Homo sapiens: one gene and its partner. The protein of the gene in region 2 purifies or fractionates together with the protein of the main gene of each other region. This does not show direct contact. Each region holds a gene or a part of one and is shown on either strand. Other genes may lie near its edges. The genes, in order: COLGALT2 and CACNB4.

Region 1 (7,300 bases), on a different chromosome or scaffold from region 2:
AGGAGGCAGAGGAGGAAGAAGAAAAAGGAAAGAGGAAGGGAGAGAGGGAGAGGAAAAATGAAAGGGAAGGGAAGGAAAAATGAAAGGGAAGGGAAGAAAAAAGCAGAAGCCACTCAATTCCCAGAGAGTAGACAAAGAACATTAACTAAATGTCAGCTCAGAGCCAGCACTCCCTTGGTGAGCCTGGTTTTCCTGCATCAGCCTCAGACCCTTCCCCAAATCTAGTTGTCCATGTTCTTCATGTTTGTGCAGCCCCATTTCCCAACAGAGGAGCTCCCTGGCTGACCCTCTAACCTCCCACCTTCTCGGAAGCTGCAGAGGCAACCTGCTGTCCCGGGAGCTGAGTCTTAAATATGACACAGGACTTTAGAGCTTGAATAAATGGCCTCTTCTCCAGCTTCACACCCACTCCATGTGCCACGTTAATTGAGGGTGGGATTTCTGCTGTGCTCCTAAGTAAGTGCTCAGTGCCACACCTTGGTTCTGTCTGAAGGTCCCTGATCTGCAGGCCGACTCCAGGTCTCAGACAATCTTCCACAGTTTCCCACCCTGAAGAGTAGAAGGATGCAAAATCCAGTGGCTAACCTCTACCCATTTTTATTTCTGAGAACATTTATGGAAAGAAAACTAGATAAGTGGAAGCTTAAGCTGTATCTCCTACTGGCTGTGGAGGTGGGGCTCTCTGCGCATTGGAAAGGACTGAGTGCCTCTCAGAGCCCTCTCGTAAGATCATCTTGTCACTCACATCAGTTCCCAGTCCAGCTGAGCCTGGTCAATGTTATCCATCAGCTTCATCAGCTTCTTCTTAAACTGATGCTCAAAACGCACATCGTCTTCAATTACAAGAGTCTTCTCTAGCTCTCGATCAATTACCTGCAAAAGTCATCAGTAGGAAGATACCCTATGAAAAGTTTGAAACCCAATTTTTATTAGATAAATAAGTATTAAAAAGTCACGAGTCTAGTAGCACAGATTCATAACTGGAATCTAAGCAAATGGCCATCAACAGTAGAATAGATAATAAACTTTGGAATATTCACAGCAGTGAGGATATATGATCACAATTAAACGCAACGTTATAGGTGAATCTCCTAAATGTCATGTTAGGAGAGTACACATACTGCATGATTCCATTCATATAAGGGAAAGTACAAACAAAGGTAAAGCTATTCAATGCCTTTAGAAGTCAGGATGGTGACTGCCCTTGGGGACTGATGACCAGAAGGCAGTACGGGGTGGGGGGGTGCTTGTGGGATGCTGGTTACCTGCTTCTGGATCTGTGTACTGATTAACATGGGTGTGTTGTTTGGTTTGTGAAATTTCCCTGAGCTGTATCTTTTGATCTATATCTTTTTATACCTATTTATCACATTTCACTTAAAGTTTAAAGAAAACAAAGGCAGGCATAGACTGGATCATTAAAAGAGAAAGTGTTCAAGGGGCCTTTCTTCAGGGACTTTCTTTTTGGTTGTGGAAACTGACTGTTTATCAGGAACCCCACACACCAATATCTGCTCCAGATATGTCTTGATCTGTAAGACAGGGGTTCCACTTCTGGCTCTGCCACTTCTTACCGGGTCAAGCTACTTAATAATTTCTTCTTCGGTAAAGGTGGTCTGTCCTTCCCAACCCACCTCACATGACTTCTGTGTGATTTCTTGTATAAAATCACTTAATAAGTGATGTCATAATAGGTATAATAGAAGGCATTCCTGCTAATGATGATAATGAATTAATAAGAGTGTGGCACACAGGACATGGGTGTCTCCCCCGTCACCACCCCAAGTGGCACCAAAGCTACTCCTCCTTGCCCCTTTGTTGCTGGTCTTGGGTCAGAGGGAGACACAAGGCAGGAGCAGCTCTCATGCACATTTCCAGAACAGTTGCGGGCTCACTTTACATCTGGCCCTAACTCACCTACGATAGCCTGCTTTCCTTTCTCCTCATCATAAAACTGCAATCTGAATAAAGCATTATTTACCTCTTTCCAGACTGAGTAGTGGCTGAGAAAGCAGCCGATTTCACCCCTTGTTAGAGGCCTGGAGGAATAGGGATCTCGATAGCCAGGCAGCATTTCAATATTCAGTGCCTTCAGCTGGCTTGTGTTGAGTGCCCTGCATCACATAAAACACGTCTGGAGATTAACAAGTCAAAGGTCCCCACCACAAAGGCCAGAGAAAGAGAGAGTTAGTTCTGCAAACACCCCTCCCCCACACAGACAAAGACAGAGAGGCTTCCCTTTATTCCTTAGAAGTTCCTCCAGGCTAATGTGTCACACTAGTATTATGAGGTCTGGGAAGACAAGAGGGTATCATATTTTTGTGTATCCCTCATAGTGCCCAACATAGTTCTAAGCATCATCAGTTTTTTGACAAGATTTAATAAGTACACTCCTATGGAAATTAGTTAAAGTACTGCAATAATCCAAGGAGTGTTTGATCAAGACCTACTGCTGAATCTCTGTTAACACAGTGAGCTTTGTGAAGTTCACAGCTGCCCTAATCCTAACCTGTTCACCCCAGCCCTACAAAAGCCTTGAAAACCAGTAGCCTCACAACTAAGAGAGCGGCAAACCCCACCAACCCAGAAGCCACTGGCAGGGACAAAATGGACTGAGACTCCCTTAAAGACCTGCCCCCAGAAAATAATCTCTATTCAACCTGTCTAGTAGCTCCTTGAAAAGCTACATTCTCAGAGCTTGTCTTGATTTGACCTGACTCAGAGTTCATTTTCTGTGAACAGCACTATCTGCAGGTCATTTGTCAAAACCCATGAGCAACAACTGTTTAACATTACAGCTGTTTGAGAAGCATTATCAGCTGATGCTAACAAGAAGCCCACCAAAAAACTTAAAAGGAAAAACCAAGGAATAAGAGGTCCATAGGGAGTTTGATTTGCTCCAAAATATCCCTGAGAATCTAGAAGGCCCCAGGCATATTCAGGGCTGTCCACACGCCCAGGAAAAACTTGAGAAGTCCCTAGTCTCTCACCTCTGGCTGACCTTAAGGATCTGGAAAAAAATGTAGTGAAGGCAAATGAATAAAACACTGCAATGAAGGAAGAATTTGGCATAGTAAGTTTTAAAAATTAATACAACCATGTGGTATCTATAAGAGGCAGCCTTTAGATTAAAAGACAAAAATAGGTTGAAAGTAAAAGAATAGAAAAAGATATACCATATAATCAGCAATGACAAGAGAGCTGGCAGAGCTATGCTAATATTGGGCAAAATAAATCTCAGACAAAATTCATGCTAGAGCCAAGGAAGGACATTTTTTAATGATAAAAAGGTTAATCTGGGCCGGGAGTGGTGGCTCACGCCTGTAATCCCACGACTTTGGGAGGCCGAGGTGGGCAGATCAGAAGGTCTGGAGATCGAGACCATCCTGGCTAACACGGTGAAACCCCATCTCTACTAAAAATACAAAAAATTAGCCGGCCATGGTGGTGGGTGCCTGTAGTCCCAGCTACTTGGGAGGCTGAGGCAGGAGAATGGTGTGAATCTGGGAGCTGGAGCTTGCAGTGAGCCAAGATCGTGCCATTGCACTGCAGCCTGGGTGACAGGGCAAGACTCCATCTCAAAAAAAAAAGGTCAATCCATCAGGAAGGCATAACAATTATAAATACATATGCACCTAACAGAACCTCAGAACCATGAAACTGGAAGAATTGAAAGGAGAAACAGACAATTCAACAATAATAGGGGAAGACATCAATATCCCACCTGCAATAATAGAACTAGGCAGGAGGAAGACAAGGAAACAGAAGACTTGAATAATATCTTAAAATAATCAGACCTAGCAGACATCTATAGAACATTCCACCCAACAATAGCCAAATACACACTTTCAAGTGTGCATAGAACATTCTCTAAGAAATACCATTTTTTAGACCATAAAGACCATATAGGTCATAAATTAAGTGTCAGTATACTTAAAAGGATTGAAATCACACAAGGTATGTTCTCCAACCTCAATGGTTTGAAATTAAAAATCAATAACCAAAGGAAACTTGGGAAATTCAGAAATGTGGAATTAAACAATACACTCCTAACCAATGGGTCAAAGAAGAAATTGCAAGGGAAATTAGAAAATATTTTGAGATGAATGAAAACACAGCATACCAAAACTTATGCGATACACTTAACATAGTACTTGGAGATATAGTTACAGCTGCAAATGTCTCTAGTAAAATAGAATATCTCAAATAATAATCCTCCCATCCATCTTAAGAAACTAGATAAAGAGAAAATTAAACCCAAAGCAAACAGGAGGAAGAAAATAATAAAGGTTACAGTACAAATAAATGAACTAGAGAATAGAAAAACAATAGAGAAAAATCAACAAAACCAAAAGTCAGTCCTCTGAAAAGATCAACAAAATTGACAATTATTTGCCTAAACTGATGAATTAAAAAAAAGTAAACTCAAACTATTAAAGTCAAGAATGAAAGAGGGGTCACTCCTACTGACCTTATGAAAGTAAAAAAGATTATATGATAATACTATGAACAATTGTATGGCAACAAATTAGATAACCTAGATGAAATGGACAAATTGATAGGAAGGTACAAACTACCAAAATTGACTCAAGAAGAAATAGAAAGTAAATAAATAACAAGAAAAGAAGTTTAATTAGTAATAAAAAAAATTTCCATAAAGAAAAGCCTAGAACCAGATGGCTTCACTAGGGGTTTCTGCCAAATGTTTAAAAATTGTTAACACGAATCTTTCACAAACTTCCAAAAAAAAAGAGGAGGAGGGAACACATCCCAGCTGATTTTATGAAGCCAATATTATTTTGATACAAAACCAAAAACATTATAAGAAAACTGCAGACCAATATCACTTATTAATATAGATGTGGAAATCTTCAAGCAAATACTAGCAAGAGAATCCAGCAATTTATAAAAGGAATTATACAGCATGACCAAATGGGTCCCAGGATTATCCCAGGGTTGCAAGTTTGGTTTAACATGTGAAAACCAATCAAAGTAACGTACCATATTAACAGGCAAAAGTCACATGTTCATCTTAATAGACACGGACAAACCATTTGACAAAATCCAATACCCTTTTATGATAAAAATACTCAACAAAATAGGACTAAAAGGGACCTTCCTCAACCCAGTAAAGGCCATCTGTGAAAAACCCACAATTAACATCATACTTAGCAGTGACGGACTGAATGCTTTCCCTCTAAGATCAGGAACAAATCAAGAAACTGCACTCAACAGTTCTATTCAACATTGTACTTGATGATCCAGCAAGGGTAGTTGGACATGAAGAAGAAATAAATGGTATCCAGGTTTGAAAGGAACATATAACACTATCTCTACTTGCATGTGACATGGTCTTGTATGTAGAAGATCCTAAGGAATATACACACACAAAGGAAAAAGTACTATTAGAACTGATAAAAAGGGTTCAGCAAGGTTGCAGGATACAGGATCAATATACAAAAATCAATTGTATTCTTATTCATTTAGCAATGAACAATCTGAAAATAGAACTAAGGAAATAGTTCCATGTACCATAGCATCAAAAGAGTAAAATACTTAGGAGTATATTTAACAAAATAAATGCAAGACTTGTATACTGAAAATGACAAAACATCATTCAAAGAACTAAAGAAGATCTAAATAATAAAAAGACATTCCATGATTACGAATCAGAAGACTTCATATTGTTAACACGGAAATATTCTCCCAGTTGATCTACAGACTCAATGCAATTCCTATCAAAATCCCAGCTGCCGTTTTCTTTATTTGTGGAACTTGACAAGCTAATTCTAAAATTCATATGGAAAAAGTAAGGGACCCAGAATAGCTGAGACAAACTCGAAAAAGAATAACAAAATTGAAGGACTCATACTTCTTAAATACAAAGCTACAGTCATCAAGACGGTATAGTACTGGCATAAGGATAGACATATAGATCAATCAAATAAAATAGAGAGTTCAGAAATAAATCCTTACATTTATGGGCAACTGGCTTTTTACAATGGTGCCAAGACAATTCTACGAGGGAAACGAAAGTCTTTTTAACAAATGGTGAAGGGACAAATGGATAACCATGTGCAAAAGAATGAATATGGATCCCTGCCTCATGCCATATACAAAAATTTACTCAACATAGATCAAATACCTAAATGTAATAGATAAAACTGTAGAACTCTCAGAAGAAAATTTCATGAAGTAAATCTTCATGGCTTTGAAATTGACAATGGATTCTTAGGTATGACACTAAAATTACTAGCAACAAGAACAAAAAATAAATTGGATTTCATCAAAATGAAAAACTCTTTTGCTTCAATGTATACCATCATGAAATTGTGACAATCAATAATGCATAAAGTTAAAGAAAATATTTGACAATTACATATCTGATAAAGGACTTGCATCCAGGATATATAAAGAACTCTCACTACTCAACTAGTTTCCCTGGTCCATGTGGTCTATGAATGGGACTGGTGTTCTTGGAGGTATTTGAAGCAGTGGTTCCTAAACTCTACTGCACCCAAGAATAGGGCTGACAGATTTAGGAAGTGAAAAACACAAAACACTCAGTCAAATTTAAGTTTCAGATAAATAATGGATAATTTTTTAGTATAACCAAGCCCCATGTGATGTTTGGGACAAATTTAACTGGCTATCCAGTATTTTATGGGGCAATCCTGTCTAAGAATCACCTTGAGGCTTCTTAAATGCAGATCCTGGGTCCAGCCTCAGAGAGCATAATTCAGCAGGTCTGAGATGGGACTGAGGGAGCTGTCCCCTTAACCATCCGTGGGGACTCTGATGTGAGTGTCCAGGTCACACTTTGGGAAACACTGATGAGATTCTCTAAGGGAGTCATAAAAACTTCAACAGCTGCTAGCCATACTCCTTAGTTGGAGTTATGCAAATAGAAAACAAAGCTACTGATATTCTAAACCAACATATAACATGGAAAGGCACATTTTATAAAAATCTATGCCTTGAAATAGTTTAGGGTGTCAAATAAAAGGGCAAAGCTGAACAAAATAAAAAAAAAAAAAAAGAAGGGATCTAACTAGGTTCCCTGTGTTACTTTCCTGCCATATTTCCAGGAAAAGTGGCCACTATGATCGGTCCAGGCAGATTGTGGCAGGCATCTCATGCAACAGGAAATGTACACCTTTATGCATTTTCCATCTATTTTCTTCAGATTGACCAAGTTTCAGCACTTTATGCTCTAATTCAGCTCTGAACACAATTCTGAACACATTCCTTCTGTTACACTACAGAAGGCTGAAAACCACCACAACTGTTGCAAGAACCC
Region 2 (5,074 bases):
AGATCGCACCAGTGCACTCCAGCCTGGGCAACAAGAGTGAAACTCCATCTCAGAAAGAAAAAAAAAAGAAAAATTCTTTTGAGAGAGAAGTTTCAGTGAACTTTGGTTTCCTCATTTGTATTTGTATCTCATAATCCATGCCCGGCCTACTTTCCTGGGTGATCAGATGAATTAAATGTGATAATTGTGAAATAACTTGACTCTAATAAATCACTGTATAATCCTAATGCAGTGATAAAAATCAACATAGTCCATATTTCTTTGGAATCTCCTATACAGTGAAATGACAAAAAAGTCAAATTCCAATCAAGTCTTAACATAGACAATTGACCCCAAATACATACTATGGAATTCTTACAGGTACAAGATAGCTTTGGAAATGTCTGATAACTGCAATATTAATCATTTTGGAGTGGATGACTTGCGAACAATATAATACTTCATCTAGTATATTTTTCTATATCCAATCCTATTTTGCACATGTATTCGAATGTATTTTATTTCACATGTGTGTGTATTTAACTTATAAACCCTTTCCTAATACAGTACTTATTTTGTGATCACTCACAGCACCTGGCAGAGTATTCAGAAAGTAGTCATTTGATTGAATCCCTTTTTAGGATAAATGTTTAGACTTTTTCTTTTTTTCATAAAAGAGTACCTATTGATTTCCAGTATTTCTTCAATATATTTCTAGAATAATATAAAGGAGAGGTATAACGCTGGTTTCAGTGTTTTTTTCATTTATTATATAAAAGAAAAAAAGTAATGCAGTTGTTTTGTACACATTTAAATTCCATAAAACAAATCCATAGAAATGAGGATACTCTATGCATGCACTCTGCATTTTCTTTGTTAATGTTTTTATTCACAAAAATAACACCACGTTTTTTTCTTTAAAGCCACTAAAGCAGAGGGAGAACAAAACATGCAGCACTGTACACATTTGCATAGTATATTTTACCCAGCATGCCTTGTAGAATGCTACACATACCTAGATAAGAAAAATAAAAGGGGACAAATTATTAAAATAAATAACTAAAATTTAAAGAAAGAAAAAAAATTATTTGACAAAGGCATTTTTTATCCCACTTTGTCAATGGAGATATAGCAATAGCCTGGGATTTCAACAGCCCTCAGAATAGTAGGAAAAATCTTTTTACATCATTTTGCCATATTTCTGTTTTAGTATGTTTTATGTTAATACATTTATTTTTTATTCCTTCCCACCATCCCTACAAAAACACAGCTAATGGCTTTAACTTATGTTTCAAAGTAGTATTCAGTACAAAACAAATTAAAGAATCCCTAACTAATATAATTTTTTGTGGTTGGGACATCTTTATTGATCATTCTGACTCGAGGCTGTGAAAAATACAAAAATCTCACACATGTCCAAAATTCAGAGGAGCCCTATGAGCTCACTTGCTGTGACTTTCTGCTGTTGTTATTGAAAGAGAAGAAATAAGAGGAGAAAATATGGTATGAGTGTTATCACAAAATAAAATTTAATAAATTTTATGGAAGGGAATAAAACAAAAGAAATTACATCCACAGATTGCAAGGCTATGAAATAAATTGCTGGAAAAGTATCAAGCAGCAAGTTAAAAAGATGGTAGATGAAGTAAATCTGACAAAACTTAGAACTAAATCGACATACTTTTAAAAAATATGACTGCCAAATTTAACGGTGGATTTTGTTATAAGTTTGTGCTATAACAAATGTGCTTCTTTCTCCTCAATCTATTTTTATATTATTGGCAAAATATATATTTTATAATTTTGTACTGTACAATATGTTTTTGCTACATTATTTTTCTACTGCTAATGCAGATTATAAGTAACAACATAGATTTATTTTGGCAATAAAATGCTTTCATTTTAATAACATCCCAGAAAATATTGTAAGGCATATGAAAAATAGTATGCAACGATATAGCGTTAATGATCCCGCCTCTTTATTACATCCCTTATGCATACAGAATTCACACTGATTTCAGTTAAAAGTCAAAGTGGCATGCAAGTAGGGCAAGGGTGGCCCCTACATAAATATAGACATAGCCATTTGTTGAGAAATTTAAGTGTTCAAAACATAACCAAGAACACTTATCAGGTATTGAAAAGCTAGAGGCCAGCCACTTCTGGTTCTTAGTTCCCCTTGTAACTCCTTATAATTTTCAAATGAGGAAGTATCAGTGTATTCTCCCAAACCACTCTAAATTCATTAGTAACATTTTCTACCATCCTTCTGCAAACATTTTACATACATCATGAGAAACAAAAGAAAGTTTCATATATAACTACGACTCCCCAAACCAATTGCTACTCACTCTTAATTATACTTTGTTTATGGCAAGTAGAAGTTACAGCCCTTAGGATTATCTGATGAGATACTTTCTAGTCTTCTCATAATGTCCCTCAATTACATGAAGCATTTAGAATTAATCATTACAAGTAAAAAGAGATAGCTGCTATCAGAGGATGTATTTTATTTAAGAAAGTCCATTTTAATAAAAGAAGAAACTTTTAAAAGTAATTTTTGAATGCTGTAGTTCTGGGTGCCCATATAAGCCAATTTTTCTATTTTGACTAACTTGACTGCTTAAGTCAAAAAGAAGGTTATCCTTATTGTCTGTCTAACAGCTAATTGGATTGACTTGACTGGTTTGATCATGATTATTTTAAAGAAGAGGACTGTTCTCTGCCCCATAGACACAGCTTGAGTAAGTAACTTACTAACAGTTATAGTATTGACAGTATTTAAAGGTATGAGAAACTAATAAAACAGATTTTATTACATAATTTCCTATAAATTTTTCATTCATACAGTCATTCAAGGATGAGTTTTATATAATTTAAAAAAACACAACATGCAACATTGTCATAAAAGACAAAGGCAGAAATGTAAAAGGAATAAGGGGTACATAGCATTTATTTGAAACATTGATATGAAGTTTATTCCAATTACATGGGAGTCCAAGATTATGCATATCCTTACCCAGTAAATGGCTAAGTCATGCTCTGTGGAAGTCAAGGACCAACAAAATGTGAATTTGCAAACCAGCTGCTCTTAAACATAAAGTCTTTGGACTTTTACTCCTTTAGACTTAGAACTAGATATTATAACAAGTTGCACACAAAGGCAATTCCCTTGCAGTTTGTTTTGTTCCCTATGATGACTTATTTGTTAAATTAACCTTGCCTCATGATAAACTGTGAACCAATTCAAAGAAAACTTCACTAACGTGGAAGAAATGAAAGGGTGCCAAACAGCATTTTGGAAACAGTTTAAAATCTAAAGGGAAGGCATATTTTAATAATCTATGTATTTAGCTTTGCAGCAAGGTTAGCCAGAATAGTGATAATTTTGATCACTACTTATTGACCAGTGTTTTTCCCTTTAAAGACAGATTGTCTTCTCTAGAGAAGAGGTAGTAAATATATCAGTACATAGGGTAATTTCTACAATGGTATTACATTTTTTAAGCAAATACCAAAATAAAACTGTGTAACTAAGAAAATATATACTAACATGCAAATTAAGGTTGCCAAGACACATTCTTAACGGACATCCTGGGTCTTAACAACATTTTGTGATATGTTCATTTAAAGAATTTAAATTTGCAAACCATCTTTTAGCATAATTTCCTTTTCTTACTTCCTTTCACTGCCTCCACTTCCTATTATGAATTTTAAGGCCCCCACACAAAAGACAAGTTCAAGTATGCAGGTATGAAAAGAGGTTAACATTCCAAAAATACATTTTGCAAACAACGACAATAATAATTAAATAGCAGATTATTTAAAGGAAACAAATAATTGTCTCAGAATTTGTTTTACATTAATAAAATTCATTTCATTAAAGACTAACTGCAATGACTTATATAGTCACAAAATTAAGACTCTTATTAGGAAAGACCATCATCTAAATTGTGAACAATTTCAACCTTCTCTCCAATAGAACTGTATAAAGATAAGAGAGAATCATCATTTATAAACATTTCTAAGTGTTGCTTTAAATATTAAACAAGATAATGTTGTTGGTTATAATATTAGAGTGACATTATACCCTTGAGAATTAACATCAGGATTGACAAATTGCATTCGTTTTTTTCCAGAACTACATTTCCACATTGTCACATGAGTCCACATTATTATATGTCTGTGACTGAAATTACAGAATTCTAGTATGTGGCTTATACTGTAAGTTAAAACAGCCTCAAAACAGTAAAAGACTTGTTTCTCTTGCTTATAATCATTTGCTATCTTTAAATGAAATTAATTAAAAACAAAGTATGGAGTATGTATTTTTCAAAGGTGCTTGGTGTGCTTGGCAAAAATAAAACTTTTCATTTAGTATATATCTAGATTTTAAGTATCATTTACACAATAAACTCTTAAGTCTTTAAAAAAAATAAGATGTATATCCCCTTATTTGAGGAAGATAAACTTATTACAGAAAGAAGGGGAAAGAATATTCCAAATTAAAGTAAACATTTAAATATATCCATCAATAAAATATACATTATACCCTTTCCAAGATTGTCAGCTTTTGAATAAGAATGCAAAGCAAAACAGGTATGGACATCTGATGGTAATTGATAGATTGGTTTTGTGCACAGATATTGAATGAGACTCTCTTTATCGGCATGACATGGAAGACTAAAAACAAGGCTTTGAAAAACCTTTAAAAACAAGTGACTTTTAAAAAGTTGAAAGAAGATGGTAATCTTGATGACTAGGAAATATATTTAAATGCTGTTACAGCTACCTGCCATAAAATGTAAGTATCTTAAAGTAGTTAAATGACCAAACTGCTAATGCTACTACAGAAAAAGCTGAACAGCTGTCTAGTCTAAATTTGTACACCTTGGTGCACTCTTTGCAATTAAATACTTTAATGCGCATAAACAAGAAACCAGTAAAGCATATAGAAAAATGTTTTGGCTAATGTTTTCTTTCTCATGCAAGTATGTGCTGTACATGTAATAAATATATTTTTGTTTGCTGGAAGATGCTCTTCTGTGTTCTAACAAAGTATTCAGTAATGGCAGGTTATATGTTTATTAAAGTG

The links.
Region 1: the proteins of CACNB4 (region 2) and COLGALT2 purify together in Homo sapiens (affinity purification with mass spectrometry; 2 studies listed by BioGRID and IntAct, with this or other methods). This does not show direct contact.

What each region holds. Positions count from the first base shown.
Region 1 is NC_000001.11:183,943,451-183,950,750, forward strand, and holds part of COLGALT2 (procollagen galactosyltransferase 2), read right to left. Parts: intron 2,115-7,300; coding exon 1,982-2,114; intron 874-1,981; coding exon 746-873; intron 1-745. UniProt on the Homo sapiens protein: Beta-galactosyltransferase that transfers beta-galactose to hydroxylysine residues of collagen.
Region 2 is NC_000002.12:151,832,045-151,837,118, forward strand, and holds the end of CACNB4 (voltage-dependent L-type calcium channel subunit beta-4), read right to left. Parts: 3' UTR 727-5,074; downstream 1-726. UniProt on the Homo sapiens protein: The beta subunit of voltage-dependent calcium channels contributes to the function of the calcium channel by increasing peak calcium current, shifting the voltage dependencies of activation and inactivation, modulating G protein inhibition and controlling the alpha-1 subunit membrane targeting.